Linked DNA regions of Homo sapiens: region 1 is linked to region 2. Evidence: fine-mapped expression QTL. Tissue or cell type: cerebellum. Region 2 holds a variant in brackets; the other region holds the start of a gene. All regions are shown on one strand. Distances are between the middles of the regions.

Region 1 (8,094 bases), 89 kb before region 2:
TATGTTAAAAACACTTTTATCCAGTGTTTGCTACTTGCCAATCACTGTATTAAGTGCTTTGTGTGTATCATCTCAATTAATCCTCCTAGCAAACCACTGAAGTAGGTCCTATTAACAACTCTATATGAGGTATTATTACTCTTTACAAATGATGAAGTCATTTACAACTTTACAAATGATGAAATCAAGACTCCAAGAGTTTAAGTTATTTGACCAAGATCAAATAAGGTACAGTCAGAATGTGATACAAGTTTATGGACTCTAGTTACTCTATTATGTTATTCTTGGAGAACCATTTTTGTTTTTGTTTTTGAGATGGCGTCTTGCTCTGTCGCCCAGGCTGGAGTGCAGTGATGGGATCTCGGCTCACTGCAAGCTCCGCCTCCTGGGTTCATGCCATTCTCCTGCCTCAGCCTCCCGAGTAGCTGGGACTGTAGGCACCCACCATCACGCCTGGCTGATTGTTTGTATTTTTAGTACAGACGGGGTTTCACCATGTCAGCCAGGATGGTCTTGATCTCCTGACCTCATGATCTGCCCGCCTCGGCCTCTCAAAGTGCTGGGATTACAGGTGTGAGCCACCGCGCCCGGCCTTGGAGAACCAATTTTAACATGTATTGAGTATTATAAAAGCACCCACTTCAGGCCTGGAATGTATTAAATGTCACTTAGTATCTAACAACCTTCCCACCTCATCCCTGAGGACTTGAGTACTTGGCTCATGGTATTTCATTTATCAGCCTCTCAGTTCCTTCAATATGTCCCCTGACGGCATAAATCATCCACATCGTCCACCAGCACCGGTAAACATACTAGATCTAATCATTACTTGGAACTGTTCTACTTCTGAAATGGTAAACTCTGGTTATTACCAAAGACTTCTTGGTTCTTTCTTACTCAATCCTGTAACAACAGCTCTTTAATGTCATACATATCTCCTTTTCTTTAATTTGTAATTTTTCCAGTCTATTATTCTTCTCAAACCTCTTACACCTTTTCCACTGCCTGGATTCTATGATTGCTGTTTTAAAAATTTTCTTACCAATACCGTGTGTTATTTTCCTTCTTGTACAACTTCCAGAAAAACTTCAAAATTGGGTTGGTGTTATGCTTTTCCCCTTCTACCTGACTGATTAAATTTTGATGGAGAAAACCACATAATCATGCAAGCTCCATCACCATACATTAATGGTCTCCAACCTCAGCCAGGCCCTCAGCATCACTTATCAATTCTCTGAGTGATTTTCTACTTTCATTTTTCAACTCTCATTTTTCCTAATGACTATTCCAAACCTTCACCACCTTCTTCAAGCATCCTTTTCAAGTCCCATACCTTGAGTTCAGTAAACAGCCTTTGCTCCAAATTCATCAAGATAATTGGGGGCTTTAGTTATTGGAGTTTTAGAGATCCATCCTTGGCTACAACTTTCTGGTTCCATATTATTCCTGAGAGATCGCTTCCACTTTAATGGTATAAACACTACTTTATGCTGATGACGTTTAAATCCGTATTTCCACTTGGAGTTCTCTACATAGTGGACATCTGTGGTTGGAGGCCCCATAGTGTCTTAGTCTGTTTCTGCTGCTATAACAAAATGCCTTAGATTGGGTACTCTTTAAGCAACAGAAATTTATTTCTCATAGTTATGGAGGTTGGGAAATCCAAGATCAAGGTGCCTGCAGATTCAGGGTCTGGTAAGTGCCTACTCCTTACAGATGATGACCTCTCTGTGTCCTCCCACGGCAGAAGGGACAGAAGGGGCTAGCTAGCTCCTTGAAGCCCTTTTATAAGGTCATGAATCTTGCTCATGAGGGTGGTCCTCATGACTTAGTCAGCTTCTAAAGTCTCCACCTCTTAATACTATCACCTCTTAATACTATCACCTCTTAATACTATCACCTCTTAATACTATCACCTCTTAATACTATCACCTCTTAATACTATCACCTCTTAATACTATCACCTCTTAATACTATCACCTCTTAATACTATCACCTCTTAATACTATCACCTCTTAATACTATCACCTCTTAATACTATCACCTCTTAATACTATCACCTCTTAATACTATACTCAATACTATACTGACCTTGTGTTCACACAGCTCCCTGTTCATTGCACTGAAGATGTCTCCTTGTACTTACCCACGTGTGTGTCTGTATCACAGTTAGACTGTGAGCTCTTTGAAGCTTGGGACTGCACATTGTTTCTTAATGTTGAACAAATGGATGAATGATTCATTAATGAAAAACTGTTTTACACCTGAAATGATTTCTCTGCTTTACAAAAAAAGGGGGAGAGGAAGTAATTAATATCAACAAACATTGTGATTTTTTTCTTAGTCTGACTATGAGTAACAGTAGGCATAGTGAATTCAAATGGCACTGTGAGATCTGGAGGTGCACAAAGTGCATTATGTCCCAGGAGAAGAACCTGGAATTCTCTGTAGCCACAATAAATTTGCAAGACTTCTATTAACATCCACACAAAACTCTCATTTCAGTTAAATCCTCTATAGAAAGACTTACTTGCCGAATGAAAAATCGTTTACCATAGCTTGTTAATAACATATAGATTCTTGGTCTCCAAAAGTGAACAATAGAACAGTGGAGGACAAACTAGAGTTAAGAGTTTTTTTCTGGCTGGGTGTGGTGGCTCACGCCTGTAATCCCAGCACTTTGGGAGGCCAAGGCGGGAGAATCATCTGAGGTCAGGAGTTCAAGACCAACCTGGCCAACATGGCAAAACCCCGTTTCTACTGAAAATACAAAAATTAGCCGGGTGTGGTGGCACGTGCTGTAATCCCAGCTACTTGGGAGGCTGAGGCAGGAGAATCGCTTGCACTCGGGAGGCGGAGGTTGCAGTGAGCCAAGATCGCACCATTGCACTCCAGCCTGGGCAACAAGAGCACCCCAGCCTGGGCGACAGAGTGAGACTCCGTCTTAAGAAAAAAAATTGTGTTTTTTTTTTCCGTCCTGTACTGACTTTCTTTCCAGGGGCTTTACAAAAACCCTGAATCTAGCTAATGCAGAAAGCTAACCTGCTTGAACAATACCACACTTTCAAAGCATTTCTTTTTAAAATTCACGTAAGAAGGTAAGGGAGGACTGGCATATTTCTCCTGAAGTTCAGTACTGAGTATTTATAAACTTAACTATTATTAGGGATCCTTTTGTAGTTAAGCTAATAGTAAGTAATGATGATGGGGAAAAAAAAGAGCTAACTGCTAATAATAACAATTTATAAAGAAGTTACAGTCCTTGAATGCCCACTGAGTGGCAGGTGCTTTTCACAAAGTATCGTATTTACGCTTCACAGCAACATTTTGAATAGAAATTTATTTTTCCTTTTTCTGTTTGAACAACTGAAGTTCATTGAGTTCAGATAACTTGGGGCAGGTCCAACGGACGAGTTGGAAAGACTCTGGGGCCAAAGGCTCACACCACGCCTCTCCTAGCCCCTGAGTTTTGCTACCTGCTTGCGTTTATGTGCAGGCAGGGCGGGTGGGTGGTGGTGGGGGAATCAGATGAAGCTGCCTAAGGAATTAAACATGGAAAGTGGTGGAAAGGCGAAGGAGGTATAAGCGGTGGGCCGCTGGAACCCTAAGAGAGACCAGGCAAGAACCGGGAGAAGGGATGCACCCGTTGGCGGCTCAGAGAACTTAGGTAGAGGCGAGGGGCGGGGCGGGGCGAGGGGCGGGGCCTGAACGAGGCTAGGGCGGGGCCCGAACGAGGCTAGGGCGGGGCCCGAACGAGGCTAGGGCGGGGCCTCGGGGGACAGAGTCGACCATTTGGAGACCTGCCAGAAGAGCCGTCTCTCCAAGGGAATGAAAGGTGAGGGGAGCGTGAGTGCAGGCATGATGGGAATCTCCGTGACTTGGTAAGGCAACTCACCCTTACCTGTCCTACACCCAAGAAAAGCCTCTTCTATGCTCCCCTGGGGTATCTCTCTTGCAGAGTAGGCAGGTCAATGACGAGGAGAGGGTCCTGCCCAGAGCGTGCCCCCCTCCGTCACTTGGTACGGCCCGTGCCCCCGCCGCTGATCTGGCAGGCTGCGCGCGCACACTCCGGCCGGGTGCGGGCCGGCGGGGCACAGCGGCCTCTACGGCCCGCCTCCGTCAGTCATTCCCCGGTCCCTCCTCCCGCTGCTCGCGTGCTCCGGGCCGGCCCAGCACCCTCCGAGTTACGTGCCCGCGCTCCCCGGCGGGGAGGAGCGCAGCCGCGGGGGCGCGCCCCGGTGACTCCGCCCCTCAGCTCCCCTCCCCTGAGCCCGGGAGCCCGGCTCGCGCGGCTAGGTGCGAGGAGACCCGGGACCCCACGCCCGCCCGCCCTGCCCAGCGCCCCAGCCCCGGCGTGCGAGGCGCCGCTCCCTCCTCTGCCCTGCGCGGTGCATGGAGGGGCCCGTTCGGATCGCAGCCGCCGCCACCGTAGCCGCCGCCGCGCGCGCGCGGGGGGATGACCTGGGGGTGGCTTTCCGAGCCGGCTGCAGCGCAGGAGGTCTGGAGGCTTAGCCAGCCCCGCGGAGAGGTGCGGGGGTGGGGGTCCCGCCGCAGGGTCGGAGGGAGGGGTGGCGCGCGGGCACTGGGCTTGGGGGGCCTTGGCTTAGGGGACGGGAGGTCCCGGGGACGGGCGGGCCGGCGTTCCCTGGAGGGCGTGGGGGTGCAGGGCTGCGTGCGGGGTCTGGATGCTGATGCTTGCCCGGCGGGGAGCCCCGGCGTTCCGCGTCCTCGGGGGCTCGGAGGCACCTCGCGGGAGGAGGCGGGGTGAGGTGTCAGTGACACGACGAAACCTCTTCTTGACGATGGTCCTCGGGGGCAGGTGAGATGCCGCAGAGCGGGGAGCTAGGGCGCCCGCGCGTTTTCCCAAGGGAGCCGGGTCCCTGGCCTCTCTCAATCTCCATCCCTGCAGAGCGCCCGCGAGAGACAGTGATTTATGTGTAGGGAGAAGCAAGAGAAATTTCCTGCACAATGTATCTTTCTCTGCCTTCACAAGACTCACTGACTTCCCAGCCCCAGGGAGTGTATTTTTCCTTCTCCTCTGTAAAGCTTTCTGTGGATTGCATTATCATTTGCTAAATACATTACAGCTCGCTATTTATTTCAGTCGGCAGCTTCCAGACCTTTGTTGCTTTCTCTCCACATCTAGGAATTTCAGCAATAAATCACTGAGGGGGATAGATAGACTCTCTTGCCCTTCCCTTCATTGTTCTCCCTAACCCCACCAAATCAGGTGGAAGGCTCTCCAAAAGGAGCTGTTTCCAGAATGCCTGCCCTTCCTCATCAGGACGACAGAGGGTGGCAGGTGCTTTAAGGGCAGACTGCTTTCCAGTGGGAATCCAGAATTTAGAGAACCTCATCAACAGAAAGTCAGCCTTTGTGTCCCAAACCAGACACCTTGAAAAACAGGAGGTTGGACTAAAAGCTCACATGAGATTTATTTTCAGGCCTATGCCAGTAAAGATGAAAGACGCCAAGTCAGTGAATTCTGATTCCTTTCGGCGCTGATAACATAACCCTCAAATTCCCAACTGACACTTGGCATACCTAGTGGACAGTGTCTCCAAGGAGAGGAAGGTGGGGAGGGTGTTAGAAAATGAAATGAGTTTATTGTCAGCATAATTCTAAACATTCTATGACATTTTGTAGTTCTCCCCCACCCTCAGTCTATTTTTAGCTGAAAATTTGGGGATAGTTCAACTTTTAAGATAAGATGAAAGAAAACCTTCAAAAAATTTTCTGGAAATTTTAAATTAGTGCTTAACTAGAAAGCATTCTTTGGAACCCGAGAAGCACCAAATACTGCAGTCTCTGTTATGCACATGTTGGAATGAACTGCCTCATACTTGAAGTTATATGAGAAGGATGGAGAAAACCTGTTTCATTTTGTAAAGACGTGCCCTGGGTGTGTGTTTGGCAGTGTGTAGAACAGAAACATTTATATTTCTATTAAGAAACACACAAATGTATACTGTTTAACTTTCATGCAAAAACTTCCCAGTGTTTGGGAAATCTGTCTTTGTTTGAATAGTTTAGTCAGCCAGGAGAATCAGTTACTAGAGGTACTGTGCTGTTGTTTGTGTAATAACTCACTTGGGATGCTTTGATTGATTGCCATGGTTCTCATCAGCCTCCTCTTCTGTGCAAAGTACTTAAACAGCTCTGACTCTCAAGCCTTCAAGTACAAAGAACCCTTAGGACTTGGATACTGATCTAGCTTGTGTAGCTTGGCTTCTAAATCTAGCTTACGCCTTGCTTTCTTTGCAGGTGGTTTGACTTTGCAGGAAAAGAATTAAGTTCACTTTAAGATAGGACTTTCTCCTCCAGATCGTCAGGGTATATACAGCTGAAGGCAGTAGGTAGGAATAGGAACTAATGTCCTAGGGCTTTGTTCTAAAGAGAGCAGGTAAAAATTTGTTGACTATTTCTTGGGCTTGCTTCTTATTTTCCCACTTCGCCCATCTGCCTTCATGACTTTGTAGACAATTTCATGTATGGTTTTGTCGAAATGTAAGTTGAAGTAAAATTTTCCTTCTGTAGAATTTTTTTTTTTCCACGAACGTTTAGACTAAAAATTGGTGATTGTTTCGAAGTTAAATACTAGGGAAATGATTTCAGGAATTAAATATTATCGTAGTAAAAATCAGGGAAGCGTTAGAAAATAAATAATGAGTTGAAAAATGTGTTGCTTTAACGTGTAATGATATGAGCCAGCGCCTTGTGATCAGCTATGGCATGATGTAGAAGTATGGGTAAGACAATACAGTGGAGCTGTAGATGAGCTGCGTACATGGTAGCCCCCCTTTAAGTAAATGAACTTAATACAAACTAATTAGATTAGAAACAGAATTTGGAGTATGGTTGCCAAATATTTTGAGTTGAAGGACTTGCTTTTTTACAGTATTTTTTAATGGGGAATTTTTTCAAGAAATTTCGTGAACTTGAATTTGAGAATGTTTTATTTTTACTTAAATTTTTATATTGTATGTAATCATTCCATGTGATAAGTTTTTGTTGTGTATTTGGCACTAACTCACTTTCAACAGCACAGGGGAGGGCTTTACTTGATTCTTTTTTGTTAAAAAGAAGGGATGGTGTATGGAATATTCTTAATGTCACTTGAAAAATATTGGATTACAATTAAATGAAAAACTGGTTTCTTGGTTTTTTTTTTTTTAATCCTTCAAGTTTTCCCTCATTGCTTGTGCTCTTTCCCCCATTGTCAGGCTTAAAACATACAGTATCATTGTCATCTGTCTCCTGAATAATGGTCCTGAGGTGATATTATTAATGTGGCTTTTTAAAATCAAGCTAATTATACTTGCCTAAAAGAGCCACATGTGTGTGATTCTAGCTGCCTGGTGCCTTTTGAGAGCCCTGGAGACAAGCTAGTGAATAGAGCTGAAAATTCATTCTGTATTTGATTAAATGGAACAGACTCGCTGCTCCTTACCCCAGCGGGGGCTATGAGATCTCTTGATCCCCGAAGCGGCTCCAAGACCCTGGGAATTCCATTAGCGAGCACCTGAGGAATTTCTGCCCTGCAGTGCCTTTTTTGTATGTGTGTATGTGTGTGTGTGCAGAGGGAGTGGAGCAGAGCGGGGATTGGGGGGATGCGGGCAGGGGGGGTTGAGGGGGTGGAGGGAAGGCTACATTAGAAGACTCCATATGTTGGCAGATCTAAAATCAAGGCATGACTTAACAGCTTATCTTGTAAGAGAAAAGCCCAACCCAAAGGCAGATTGCTAGTCCGGACTTTATTACAAGCAGGACTACAGTGATGTGTTTTCAGCACTGAAGTGAACTCCAGTGTAAGTACAGAAAGTGGCTTCTCTGCTTTCCCTCCGAAGCACAAGCATATACACGTTGCAGACTTGGTAAGTTTTCTTTGAATGATCTTTTGATAAATATGTAAAATTATCTTACTGTTTGGTCTTGCCTGTAAAGGCTGATGTATCGTTTTAATAACTTTCAAACTGAGAGCAAAATCAGACTTCATGTGAAACAAATGGTTTTGCAGTGATGAAATGCTTGTTTTAATAGGCATATTTTAGTTTACTATTGATAGAATTTGATTGTTTCTGTTACATTATTATT
Region 2 (8,104 bases):
ATATAAAGTTCAGGATTTGCAATCTTAAATTTAAAGCTGTTACTAATTTTTTGCCTCTGCTTTCCAATTTTTGTCTTTTTGTGCCTCGGTTTCTTCAGCTATATAGAAACCATCTTAAAGGCTCTATTTGTCACTGAAATATTATTATAAGGCTTAATGTTTTTGAAAATTTTAAATTAGAGTCATTCTCTGTTATAAAGACTTTATCTTTTCTCACCTTTTATTTTCTACTCTATGTTATGGGATGTTATGAGGATGAATGACAGTGTTTCTGAGTGTTGGGGGGAGGGGGGAACCCTCTGTATATAGTAATTTTTTTCACAGTAATGTTACTGAAATTTTCCTACCAGATTATCCAGTGTTTTTTTTTAATTCTTAAAATCTTAAGAAAATTAAGCAGCAAACCCTTGCTTTGAATTTTGTGTTTTAATTTTAAAAGTGGTATGTACTCACAATATTTCAAACAAGATAGAAATATGGAGAGCAATGTGCATTTAACACATAGGATACTCGGCACACTTTCCTACGACCTCTCTCTATGGTAATCCCAAGGATTACCAAGCTTTTTGTTGTATTAAAGTTGTTTCAGAAATCTTAGTTCTTTCTTTTACATAATGATGTTATTGAATTACATGGTGTCAAAAGTCCTTCCTTCTCAGTCCTAAAACTCTACAACCAAAAAGATTATGTCATAGTTAGTACATAAAATAACTGGAGTATGGGTGGGAGTTTAGATATTTTATTATTGAAATGATGTTTGACCTATATATTTAAAATGGATTAACAGGTTAAGAGTTGTCTCTGGGAGTTATTGAAACCAGAACTTGAAGAAGGATCAGGCCAACCATCAAATTAAAAATACGTTGTTCCAGCCTGTGTTTTGAGAGTTGCAGAACAAAAGCAACAGAGCTTCTTGGAGATTGTTTGTTATCATTTACTTAACCCATTTCAGGGTGTCTATAAAAGAGCCATCTGCTTCTTTTATGTACTAAGGTTTGCTTGTTACGTATTTAAATTCTATATGACCCTGGTTTTGCAAATGTTCATAACATTGAAACCACATTTTTGTCTTGAGCTTTTCATGGACTTTACCGTAGTTTGTTAGGCAACGTGCTAAAGACCTGGTAAAGGTGGTTCATGTACCTGGCGAGTAATCAGACGGATTTAGTTACAAGTGGTCTTGCTTAAAATTTTAACGTGTTTTCTTTTGTGGTTCTTGGTCATCAGCAGATCTTGGTTCTCCTGGACAATAGAATGGTATAACGACAGGATCTCTGGTCTAAGAATAAGTAGACCTGGGCTGTGACATAGCTTAAACCTGTGATCTTGCGAAAGTAACGTAATGTTTCTGAAGCTATTTCCTTAACTAAAAAGGGGAAAATTGTCCTAGGTAATGTAAGATTGCTCCCAACATAATCTGACGGTAGTCTCTGGCAATTTCCTGCCAATCATGTCTTTTTGATGAAGTATCATCTTAATATCAAGAATGCATCCCATTTCCTTAGAAGGACTTATATGACCTCTGCCATTTAAATGACCTTGGCTTTGTGGCTATTTGTATGTGTAGTGTGTGTGTGTGTGTGTGTTTGTGTGTGTGTGTGCATGTGTGTGTATGTAGTATTTTAGTATTTTCAAGTTTTTATTATACAGTTTTTTTTTCCTTTAAGACAATGAACAATTGTATTTCTATTAATTTTCAAGTTAATGACTTACTACATTTCATGTGTGTGGGTTTTACTGTTATCTGGGAATTTAGGTGAATTCTCTTCAGCTTGGAACACCAGATTCTTTTTCTTCCTGGTTTCAATTTTCTTCCTCATGAGAATCTGCCTGTTTAGTGCAAGTCTTTACTTGCCTGCATTGCCTTCAAGGTTAGCCAGTGTCTCACCTGGCTCCCAGGAGCAACTGTATGATTTTGACACTCAATAATTGGACAGATAAGTATCAATAAGTACCTACCTTCAGCTCTAGAAAATTTGAATTATTAAATTTAAAGATTTTAAGTCTTTTCACTTTGGAATTGAGAACAGGTATCTCCTCTTAAGATCTTACAAATGACAAAATTTGTAAAAAGCTGTGAATGCCGAAAGGTAGATGATACGTGGTTTACTCTCAAAATATAGAAAATTATAGTCAATTTATGCTTTTAGAATATCGACATTGTTACTATGAATGAGTTTGCATTTCTGAATATCAGCTGAAATAGTGTAAACATAAAAAGAAGCGTGATTTCAGTTAAGTTATATGAGGGCTATCAAGTGGGCCTCATATGATTTTTGGCTGTTCAGTCAAACAAAACAAAACAAACATTTACTGAGCACTACCCAGGCTCTGGACTAGGTTCTGAGGTGTTTCCCCGTAGAAGGAATGTAAGAACAGTCATGGACGTAGAAAGGATAATGTTTACATAAGAATGAATAGGCGACTTCAGTGGTTCTCAAACTTTAGCGTGCATCACTTGAAACACTTAATAAAAACGCACATTACTAGGCTCTACTCCCACTCCTATTCTTAGACCAGAGTTTCCCATTCAGCAGGTCTAGGGTGGGGCCTGAGAATTTGCATTTCTAATGAGTTCGCAGATGGTACTGATGCCCATGGTCCTGGGACCATGCTTTGAGAACCGCTGGAATAATTTGATCGGCTGTGAAGTGCAACTAGAGAATAGTAGGATATTGAAATTGGACAACTGGACTGAGTTTATATAGTGGATAACCCTGAATGTGAAGGTTTAGTAGTTTATTTAATAAACAAGTCCTATTACTTAATAATAGTCCTATTAAATATTATTTATTAAATAAGCAAGTTTATTTAATAAACAAGGCCTTTTATTGAGTGCCTGTCATGTACTGGGTACTGGCCTAGGCCCTGCCTTCAGAGAGTCCATAGTCTAACAATAGTGATTCTCAGACAGAGGTAGGGATATAGTGAGTAGAGTTTGAAGAAGCACGTTGAGTTTTATAATTTTATATTTAAAGAATAGAAAAAAATCTCTATGTCTGTAATGTCTATGTATACAAGGGTATGCAATTTTTATATTAATCAAAAGGGGATATGCGTTAAATGTTGAGAAACACTGGGGTAGCAGCATCATAATTGTTGCAAAGCTTATTGAGAACAGGAATGATCTGTTCAGAGATATGCTCAGGCTGGATGAAAGATGGCAGTGCACAGGAGGGAAGGGAGGGAGGGGATCAGTGAGACATGGGGAATGGGGATGAAGAGGAAGGGATGAGTGAGACTGCAGACATGGAGTCTTCAGGACTTGGCCATTGACTGACAGGGATCTAGAAAAACAGAAGATTCCAGATGTGTAAGAAGTTTCAAACATGGATGATCTGGGTGGTAGTCATAGTAATAAGAAACTTAATAAAATGATACATCATAAAAAGGTGATAAATTTGGTTTTAGAGTTGAAGTATGAGTTGATATCTTAAGGAGAAAGATGAAAATGCTGGTCTTGGCTTCAGGGGGTAGAATGGAACTGTGATACAGATTTAGGACCATTTTAAGTTCTATCCAAGTAATAGAACTTAAAAACAGATGAGACACCAAAGGAGACAATATCCTTGGCAGATTGATTATTTTTATATATTTAATTATTTGATGCATTTATTTGCTTTTATTATGTATTTAAAGTGATTAGACATTCTTTTTATAAGACATCATATCTTTTGTTATTTTTTCTTACTGCCTTAATACATCTTCAGAGAATAACAGAGATGGGAAAAGGAGAATGATAAAATAAGGAGAGTAAAAAAGAAAAAAAGAATTCCCTCCCTCCCTCCCTCCCTCCCTCCCTCCCTCCCTCCCTTCCTTCCTTCCTTCCTTCCTTCCTACCTACCTACCTACCTACCTACCTACAAATGTTTGCTGCAGGTCTCTAGTGAGCCAAGCACCAAACTAGGTACTGGGGATATGGCAGTGAGCATAACAGGCATTGCTCCTGCCTGCGTGGAGCTTAGAGTTTAATAGGGGAGACATATCTTTTAAGAAAATGACATAAATCGGCGGGGTGCAGTGGCTCACGCCTGTAATCCCAGCACTTTGGGAGGCTATGGCGGGCGGATCACCTGAGGTCAGGAGTTTGAGACCAACCTGGCCAATGTGGTGAAACCCCATCTCTACTAAAAATACAAAAATTAGCTGGGCATGGTGGCAAGTGTCTGTAATCCCAGCTACACCGGAGGATGAAGCAGAAGAATCACTTGAACCCGGGAGGCAGAGGTTGCAATGAGCCAAGATCACGCCACTGCACTCCAGGCTGGGCAACAAGAGCGAAACTCTGTCTCAAAAGAAAAAAAAAATGACATAAATAATAAAAATGAATATGTAATTAAATCTGGATGCTTTAAAGGAAAAGTAAAGAATGTGGGAGAGAGGAAAGCCCTCTGTAAGCAAGTGGCATTTTGCTGAGCTCTGAAGATTTATAAAATTAGGTCTAAGGGAAGGAAATAAGTTTAGAGCTTTCCAGGCAAAGGGGACCATTTATACACAATCTCTAAAACAGAATGCCTGAATCCTCAAAGAACTTAAAGAAGGCCAACATAGCAGAAACCTAGTAACTGGAGGAGTCAGAATTAAAAGGCGAGTGAAATCAGATCACACAGAGCCATGGCACATCTGTGGATGGTTTTAAGCAGGAATTCGTTTTTGTTTTTGTTTTTGTTTTCTGAGATGGAGTCTCACTCTGTTGCCCAGGCTGGAGTGCAGTGGCACGATCTTGGCTCACTGCAACCTCCACCTCC[C/T]GGGTTCAAGCAATTCTCTGCCTCAGCCTCCCAAGTAGCTGGGATTACAGGTGCCCGCCACCACGCCCGGCTAATTTTTTGCATTTTTAGTAGAGACGGGGTTTCACCATGTCAGTCAGGCTGATCTTGAACTCCTAACCTCATGATCCACCCGTCTTGGCCTCCCAAAGTGCTGGGATTACAGGCATGAGCCACCATGCCCAGCTGAATTTGGGTTTTTAAAGAACACTCTGGATGCAGTTTGGAGACTAAATTGGATGGGGCAGGAGAGGATACCTGGAGACCAGTTAGATGGCAGTTGCAGTAGTCCAGATGAGAAACAGTAGACTAGCATAGTTGTAGGGAGAGAAAGAGAAGAATTTTGAGAGAATTAGGATTTAGAAGGAGATGAGTCTGAATGAGTCTGAGGGATTTAAAAAAAAAAAAAAAAAAAAAAAAGACCAAGTAATTGGTTGAAGAGGCCAGTGGAGGAAGCAGTTGAAGATGATGTCTAGGTGTCTGGGCGCAGTCACTGAGGCAGAGAACACTGCAGGAGATGAAGAGGAGCTGCCCCACAGTATACTTCTGGAGAGTTGTCCTCTGAGATCTGGTGGTGCCTCTGCAATTCGCCTTCTTTATTCCACAGATACTGAGAACTGGAGAAGTCTTGCATGGGGCCTTTTCCGTACGGACTCTTACCTGCTCTGTGCCCTGCCACTCCAGGTTCTTTTTTCTCTGCCTTCTCAGTTGTAAACTTAAGCATATTTCTTGGAGTGAGCTTTTAAGAAACATTGCCAACCCTTGACCCCTTTTATCACCCATCTATTTTAGTAATAACCATCTGGAGGGAAAACGTTGCCTCTATTATGTAAATGAGAGTATGATGTGAAAAGTTGAGAGCAGGTGAGGGGAGGGTGCACTGTATAGATCTGTGGGGAAGTTGTAGTTGATTCTGGGGCTCTTGTGACATGCTGTAAATGACCGCTTGCCTCACTGGGTTCCATGACCTTGAATCCTTTTTAGTTTCTTTTGATTTTCTTTTGTTTTTTTTGAGACAGAGTCTCACTCCAGTACCCAGGCTGGAGTGCAGTGGTGTAGTCTTGGCTCACTGCAACGCCGCTTCCTGGGTTCAAGCGATTCTCATGCCTCAGCCTCCTTAGTAGCTGGAATTACAGGCGTGTGGCACCATGGCTGGCTAATTTTTTTGTATTTTTAGTAGAGACGGAGTTTTGCCATGTTGGCTAGGCTGGTCTCGCACTCCTGGCCTCATGTGATCTGCCCGCCTCGGCCTCCCAATGTTCTGAGATTACAGGCGCGAGCTACCGCGCCTGACCCCTTTGCAGTTTTTAAGAGTAATATGTAAAGCTCACTATGAATGCCTAGAAAGAAGCATATTTAAGGCAGCTTTGCAGAGAGCCAGTTCCTTACACCAGAGACCTAATCAAGAAATCCTTGTGCCATTTGGGCATTTCAAGAGTTAAATGGATTTTAATCAAAAAACATCGAAAGCTTTCTACCCTTCTCTTCTCTTCTCCTGAATTCAAAAGGCAGTAATGCAGTTCTGGATATGTAATTAAATGTGGCTTATCAGTTGCTTGGCTAGTTTAATGGAAAGGGATTGGCATTAAATCTGGTCTTTTTTAGCATCAGCCTTGATAATTTGTAAGAGAGAGTAGAGAGGACACTGATGAAATTCACAGATGAACGGACCGAGAGACCCCATCAGGAAGGAATGAGAAATTAACTCGAAGGGTCGTAGAGAGACTGGAGATGGACAGGAAGTCTCCCAGCGAAAATCAGCTTGGAAAAATTATATAATTCATCTGGGAAAAAAAGTACAAATTACATGGCTGATAGTCAAGAGAAGTAGTAAAACTACTGGGAACGGTGCTTTAGAGAACAGAGATACTACAAATGACTTCAGAGTTTTGTATAATGACAACCTTAAAAGTCTGTGTGTTGGATTTGGGAATGCTCTTTCACCAACTTGAAACCCTCCGTGGATGTCAGATGTCCTCCGATGACAACAACATGTAGAGATGAATATGAGAACATTAATTATTATTATTTATTTATTTATTTATTTATTTATTTAGAGACAGAGTCTCGCTGTGTCGCCCAGGCTGGAGTGCAGTGGTGCGATCTCGGCTCACTGCAAGCTCCACCTCCCAGGTTCACGCCATTCTCCTGCCTCAGCCTCCTGAGTTGCTGGGACTACAAGTGCCCGCCACCACACCCAGCTAATTTTTTATGTTTTTAGTAGAGATGGGGTTTCACTGTGTTAGCCAGGATGGTCTTGGTCTCCTGACCTCGTGATCCGCCCGCCTTGGCCCCCCAAAGTACTGGGATTACAGGCGTGAGCCACCGGAGAACGTTAATTATCATAGCAGTTCTTTCAGGCCTAAGGTTTGATCTACCCAGTTGGTTTGCTAAGTATTAAAACAACAAGTTGTCCAGTTCACCTGAGCTTTTTCTTCCAGCAGAAAACAGGCATTCAGCTTCTCTTCCATCTATGGTAATCTCCCTATTTCCCTAAGAAATTCAGAGTGCTGTGTTGAATTTTAAAAATTGATCAGTGCTTTCCTTTTGGGGAAGTTATATATCTCCCCAAGTCTGTCTCGTACTTCTAAGATGGAGACCTAGCGCCTGTTGTCAGGGAGTCCAGCTTTTTGTCTTTCTTTATAAGCTCGTGTGTGTCTGTCAACTTGCCATGTTCAGGAATACACTCAGTCATTTGTTGTCACTCAACATTTACTGTCATGTTTTATGTGACAGCTGCTGATAGATTAATTCCCAAAAGGAAACTCCCACTCTAATGCTGCGGTCATCGCAGCATCCAACAGAGCAGATATCGAGAAGGGAAGACGGCCATGGCCCTGGAGCGGTGCCATCAGGGTTCTTTAGGTAGTAACTGATAAGCTCCCGAAAATAAGAGCTGGGTCAGCAAAATGACACAGTGACTAGTGGAAACAGCAGAGGTGAGTGGAATTTTAACATAAACTACTGGCCGGGTGCGGTGGCTCACGTCTGTAATCCCAGCACTTTGGGAGACTGAAGCAGGCAGATCACGAGGTCAGAAGTTCGAGACCAGCCTGACCAACATGGTGAAACCCCATCTCTACTAAAAAAACAAAAATCAGCCAGGCGTGGTGGCGCGCGCCTGTAATCTCAGCTACTCTGGAGCCTGAGGCAGGAGAATTGCTTGAATCCGGGAGGCAGAGGTTGCGGTGAGTCGAGATCGCGCCACTGCACTCCAGCCTGGCGACAGAGCAAGACTCTGTCTCAAAAAAAAAAAAAAAAAAAAACATAAACTACCACCAAGATGTAACTATTTCCGAAGTCTCAAGAATATATGCATGAGAACAAGTATCACACAT

What was found. PIP is the estimated chance that this variant, and not a neighbour inherited with it, causes the effect.
Region 1: it holds the start of CDON, and the variant in region 2 is fine-mapped to the expression of CDON in cerebellum (GTEx, PIP above 0.99). The same link has a PIP of 0.9 or more in cerebellar hemisphere.

Annotation. Positions count from the first base shown.
Region 1 is chr11:126,059,013-126,067,106 of GRCh38, reverse strand. It overlaps CDON (cell adhesion associated, oncogene regulated), which reads left to right and starts at 4,241. Exons shown (of 20, transcript NM_001378964.1): 1 at 4,241-4,528. RefSeq lists silencers at 3,654-3,743, 3,814-4,483 and an enhancer at 6,684-8,094.
Region 2 is chr11:125,970,101-125,978,204 of GRCh38, reverse strand. All of the region lies in intron 18 of CDON (cell adhesion associated, oncogene regulated), which reads left to right. Among named protein-coding and RNA genes, the nearest start is that of VSIG10L2, 28 kb to the right of the region's middle. The variant C/T (reference allele first, on the strand shown) is at 4,749.